Regions from separate parts of the Homo sapiens genome. Here region 2 is linked to region 1. The links come from fine-mapping of genetic effects on gene expression. A gene starts in region 1. The other region holds a variant in brackets. All regions are shown on one strand. Distances are between the middles of the regions. Region 1 holds the start of NTN5 (netrin 5). Region 2 overlaps MAMSTR (MEF2 activating motif and SAP domain containing transcriptional regulator).

The links.
Region 2: its variant is fine-mapped to the expression of NTN5 in whole blood (TOPMed, PIP above 0.99). The same link has a PIP of 0.9 or more in substantia nigra.

What each region holds. Positions count from the first base shown.
Region 1 is chr19:48,671,681-48,674,578 of GRCh38, reverse strand. NTN5 (netrin 5) reads left to right here and starts at 1,562. Exons shown (of 7, transcript NM_145807.4): 1 at 1,562-1,647. It overlaps LOC105372431 (a long non-coding RNA gene), which reads left to right. Exons shown (of 3, transcript XR_936016.3): 3 at 792-1,433. It also overlaps the pseudogene SEC1P. RefSeq lists an enhancer at 1-5.
Region 2 is chr19:48,715,119-48,718,016 of GRCh38, reverse strand. MAMSTR (MEF2 activating motif and SAP domain containing transcriptional regulator) reads left to right here. Exons shown (of 10, transcript NM_001130915.2): 3 at 1,274-1,312; 4 at 2,250-2,392; 5 at 2,571-2,755. Among named protein-coding and RNA genes, the nearest start is that of MAMSTR, 3.2 kb to the left of the region's middle. The variant A/G (reference allele first, on the strand shown) is at 1,815.

The DNA of each region.
Region 1 (2,898 bases):
AGCTTCCCTCCAGGAGCCGGAGCTTGAGACTTCGCCCAGGTGGGGAGGAAGACGCAGCGAGACCTAAGCCTTCTTCCTCAGTTTTGTGTGGCAGCAAAGCTGGGTTCTGTGCTGGCGGTGGGCTCAGCACAAATGCCCCTCCGCATCACCCCACTTACATCTGCAATCCCCGGGCCCCCGTGGCCGCCCCCCCCACTTGCTTTGCTCCAAGGCACTTGGCACCTTCCAACAACCTAGAGCACAGAAGGACCTGCGCTGCTGGGGTCTCCCCCTCCCTCTCTGGACACTGAGCCTGATGGGGCAGGGGTCTGTGTTCCCAGCGCGAACCCCCGGCAAAGTCCCATACAGGGGGAGCTCAGGCAGGGTCAGCGGAGGGACCTGCGCCTGAATCCCGAAGTTCCACTCTGACTCACACAGCCTGGGCCCCCAGCTCTGACATGCCCCCTCTGATGGGGGGCGTCTCAGCCCCATTCCATCCTCCTGCAGCTGATGCACCTCCCAGCTTTCGGAGTGACTCCCTTCTTTCAAATCCGATGTCCCTGTCCTGCTCCTGCCAAATCTGGCCCCCTCCAACGTGGTACCTAAGGGTCCAGAGTCGAGGGTCGCCTTTGCTGTGCCCTCGCACCCCCTGGGGGCGGGCCTGGGGCAGTGGGTCCCAAGCCTGTCAGGATTGGGCCCACGCTACACCACGATAAACGCTGGGGCCACCCAGGGCAGCAGGTGCCGCGCCCCAACTCCATGAGGCCCTTGCTTTTCTCAGCGGGAAGTGACAGAAAACATTATTTTTCTAGTCAACCCATTCGGAGATGGAATAGAACAGACAGCAACATTCGCATGAAAATGTCACGATGAAAGCACTGAGGACTCGCAGGACACCAGCGGCACTGGGGAGGTGCTTTTGAGCTTGGTCCCCCGCACCCCGGGGGTCCCCGCCTTCTCCCTCTGCCGCATGAGAAACACTGGGGCCCAGGTGTTCTCAGCTCATTTGTCGCCTTCCCCACCATCTTAGAAAGCGACTGAGGTCTTTTGAATTCCAGGGGCTGGTCTGAACCTTCCAAGAGCACAGATTTTACTGACCTTAAGGCTCGGTGAACCCACAGCTGACAAAAGGTTCCAGAGAGGAGGAGGAGGGGCTGGCTTGGGGTCACGCAGCCAGAGGCAGGGGCTGAGCAAAGTTTCCAACAGCGATTGTCTCCCAAAGGTCAGCCCCTGCCCGATCGCGATGGCGGCCACCACAAGGCGGGGCTGAGCCAGTGGGCAGGGGTGGAGTGGGATGGAGCGGGACCCCCGACTGACAGCCTCCCGTCCTACCTGCGGTGAGCCTCCTAGGCCAGGCTGCTCGGGGCTGTCCTGCTGCTGGACCGCCGGGGGCAACGGCACTCACGTCCCACACCGTTGCGGGTGGCCTGGCTGGCAGGGGTCCCTGTGGGGATAGCGTGGCTGCGGTTGGTGAGGGATTGGGGTGGGAGGGGGGTGGCGGTGTTAGATTCTGCGGGCTCTGCTCTGAGCCCCCGCCCAGCCCAGAAACCCCACTAGCCTGGGGCCTGAGAACAGCCACGCCACTCCCTCCTGAGAGCCCACCGCGCCACAGCTTGGAGGAAGAGCCTGCGGGGAACTGGCTGCAGGACGCTCTCTTCTTGAGTGCAGGTTTGGCCAATGTCGGGGCCTCAGGGCTCGGGTTGGGGGGTGCATGCCAAGAGCCAGGGAAAGGAAGCCTGGGTCCCAGATGGACCCCAGGCCGCCCAGGCAGGCCTCCTATGAGTCTGCTGGGAGCATGGCTGGACTCTTTCTTAAAGAGGGGTATGGGCTCTCTGTGGGCCACGACTGGTTTCTGGATCCCCCAGGAACACTAGGGAACTCACAGCCTGGTTCCTCAAGGTGCTAAGGGCCAGAGGGTGCCACCCCCTGAACTATCCAGCAACTATCCAGAGAGAAAGGGGACATGGGGGACTGGCCCTTAACAGGATGCTGCTGAGGGCCAGGCAGGCGGCTGCCACCTGAGTGGGTGCAAAATGGCGCCAGGCTCCTTGGGAGGGCGGAGGGCGAGGCCTGTCATCTGGGCCAGGGGAGGCAGCGTCTGCATGTGGCCAACAGCAGTGGGGACATGGGCAGTGAGGCCAGGCTGGGGCAGGTGTGGCCCACCTCAACCGCCAGGGTGCCCCAGAGATGCCCAGCCCAGGGACATTCCTGGGCGCAGATTCAGAGCCAAGGGCCTGGAAAGGCTCCGAGGCCCCCAGTCCACAGTGAGCTCCTCACCAGAGGCTGCTGGCCCTGGAAGGGGAAAGTGGGGGCATTTCAGAGTCCAGTCCTTCCCAGCTCCTGCCATTCCTAGGGTCTGGGCTTCTGCCCCCACGGGCGCCCTGGCATCTGGCACCCCACCCTGTCCCAGCTCCTGCCTTCCTGCCTCTCTCCTCCTCATTACCCACCGCCCCCAACATCTGTTCCCCCATCTGCTCTGGGGAACTCTGGATGGGTGGAGAATGTGGGGACTCTGGTCTCCAGGCCCTGAGGCCCAGAATAGAGGGCAGGGTTGAGGTGAGCAGAAAGTCCCAGAACGCTAACTTCCGGTCCCCACACCCTGAGTTCTGAAGGGAACCCAGGTGTCTGCTTCCCCTGACCCCATGGGGATCCCACTGTCCCGCTCCCAAGCCCCAGAGCCACCCAGGTTCCAGCTCCCAGCATCCCTTTCCTCAGCTCAGCTCTCTGGGCTTTGCACTCGGGTGGGAAAGGGTTAAGGGTGGGGCGCTGGGGGTGGGTGGGCGGGTGGCAGGGAGGCTGGGTTGTTTGGTGATAATCCCCTTCCGTGCCCAGGGTGTGGAGAACAAGGTTAGGGCCCCATGTGGGAAAGGCAATGGCTCTGATCCCTGCAGGCCTGGGCCTCGGTCTCTCACTTCTGAT
Region 2 (2,898 bases), 43 kb before region 1:
ACAAAAAAATGACGCCGGGCAAGGTGGCTGATGCCTGTAGTCCTAGCACTTTGGGAGGCCAAGGCGGGCGGATTGCCTGAGCTCAGGAGTTCGAGACCAGCCTGGGCAACACGGTGAAACCCCATCTCTACTAAAATACAGAAAATTAGCCGGGTGTGGCGGCGTGCACCTCTAGTCCCAGCTACTGGGGAGGCTGAGGCAGGAGAATTGCTTGCACCCGGGAGGTGGAGGTTGCAGTGAGCTGAGATCGCACCACTGCACTCCAGCCTGGGTGACAGAGCGATACTCTGTCTCAAAAAATAATAATAATAATAATTAGCCGGGTGTGGTGGTGAGCACCTGTAATCCCAGCTACTTGGGAGGTTAAGGCAGGAGAATCGCTTGAACCTGGGAGGCAGAGGTTGCAGTGAGCTGAGATTGTGACATTGTCCTCAAGCCTGGGTGACAGAGCGAGACTTTGTCTCAAAAAAAAAAAAAAAAAAGATAGTTAACATTCATCCTGGGCAACACAGCAAGACCCTGTCTCTACAAAAAATTAAAAAACAAAACAAAAAAATTTAGGTAGTCCCAGGTACTCAGGAGACTTAGGTGGGAGGATGGATTGAGCCCAGGAGTTCAAGGCTGCAGTGAGCTATGATCACACCCCTGCACTCCAGCCTGGGTTACAGAGTGAGACCTTGTCTCTAAAAAAATAAAACAAATTAAAAAAAGGAAAAAAAAACAGTGTTAACATGGATGCTGAGGCAGAGTGAGTCAAGGATGAAGAGTCTGCAAAAACATGCAAGTGCGTAAAAATGGCATGTGTGCAAAACTAGAGCCCAGAGAGATGCATACTGAAAATGTGGATATGCGGAGAGTGTTGACTGTGGGAAGGCCCCGAGATAGCACAGAAAGTAGCAGGAGTGCATGGATAAAGGGAGGCGAGGTGCAAAGGGGCCAGGCTGCCAAGATAGCGATTGCGCAGGGGGTGGGGTGGGCACACGCTTGCTCATGGAGGGGGCAGGTGGAGCCGGGGGCAGGGCTGCCTCCAGCCTGCACGCTGGCTGGCTCGTAGCCCCAGAATGGCGCTGGCCCGCGGCGCTGCGCTGGCAGGGAGCAGGCGGGAGGCCCGAGGAAGGGAGCCTGCTGCCCGCCCACCCGCCTGCACAGGCTGTGTAAGGGGGCTGGGCACGCATATCCCGCCAACAACTGCAGCTCCCACCAGCCTGCCAGGCCAGGCTCCTGGACACTCCCTTCCCGCCTTCCTCCTCCCACCTCCCTCCTCCCTCCACAGTCCTCCAGCTTCGGATCCACAGACGGAATCAGGAGCAGAGTAAGTATGGGCCCCAAAAGGGAGGGGATGGTGACCCCCCACTCCCCACTGGGATATCCTGGAATACAGCTGCCAGATACCCCTCATTGGTTCCTGCAGCTCAGTCTCCATCCCCTGGGACAGACCAAAATCCCATCCTGTCCTTTCCCAAGGATCCAGGGTCCAGGTCTCTGGCCACCCCACCCCTAGGAGCTCTGCTTCCTGCTTCTCCACCCTAATGAGATGCTTGAACTTGGATCCTGCTTCTTTGGAGAAGACAGGCATCCTGGTCTCCACATTTGGTATACATGAGAAGCTCTGGATATAGCTTTTTTTTTTTTTTTTTTTTTTGAGATGGAATCTTGCTCTGTCGCCAGGCTGGAGTGTCATGGCTCAATCTAAGCTCACTGAAACCTCTACCTCCCAGGTTCAAGCGATTCTCCTGCCTCAGCCTCCTGAGTAGCTGAGATTACAGGCACGTGCCACCACGCCTGGCTAATTTTTGTATTGTTAGTAGAGACGG[A/G]GTTTCACCATGTTGGCCGGGCTGGTCTTGAACTCCTGACCTCAAGTGATCCGCCCGCCTCAGTCTCCCAAACTGCTGGGATTACAGGCGTGAGCCACCGCGGCCGGCCTGGATGTAGCTTTCAGCCTCTCCCTCTCCCCAAGAACCAGGAGTGCAGGCCCCACCCCTGTCCTAGCAAAACCTCAGACATCTGTGATCCTCAGCTACCACACCCCTTTGTGATAGAAAATTCCTGCTTTACTTGAGAATGTAGCAACCGGAGCCCCCCCACACCTCCGCCCTCAGATCCAGTTCAGGCGCCCATCTCCCAGCAATCAAGTCTTGCTCCCTGGCCTGCCCTCCGGCACCCTGGAGCCCCGCTTTCCACACAGCCTTGCTCCTCCCGGCCTGGCTTGCTGCCTGCAGGCCTCTCAGGGTCCTTCACCGTCTCTCCAGTCTCGGATCCGGACCCGTGGATCTCAGCCTCAGACCCTCCTCTGGCCCCGGCCTTGCCCTCGGGCACGGCCCCTTTCCTCTTCAGCCCTGGGGTCCTGCTCCCCGAGCCAGAATATTGTCCTCCTTGGAGGTCCCCAAAGAAGGTGAGTCTCGACTGGAGGGAGAGGTCCCTCTGAGAGCCTAGTCTTTGTCTCCCTTGTTGCTGCTGCCATTTTTGCTCCTCTTCGGTGGCACCGAGCTGACCCCATACTTTGCATGTAGTCCTGGGGCCGGAAGGTGGGAGCCGCGCTGAAGCCTAAAACATCACACCTGCTCTTTCAGGAGTCTCCCAAGATCTCCCAACGTTGGAGGGAGTCCAAGCCCAGGGGGAACTTGACATACCACCAGTACATGCCCCCAGAGCCGAGACAGGGATCCAGGGCGGACCCCCAAGCCGAGGGGTCCGCCCTGGGTCCTCCTGGGCCATCTCTGTGGGAAGGGACAGACTCGCAGCAGCCACATCCTAGGTATGACACCCACTTCTGTTCTCCCGGGACCCAGAAATTCAGGTCCCAGCATCCTCCTCCCTCAAACCTCGAGTCCAAGATTAGGGGATTGGGGCCCCCAACCCTCTCTTCTCCCAGGGTTTAAGAGTCCAGGATCCCAGCCC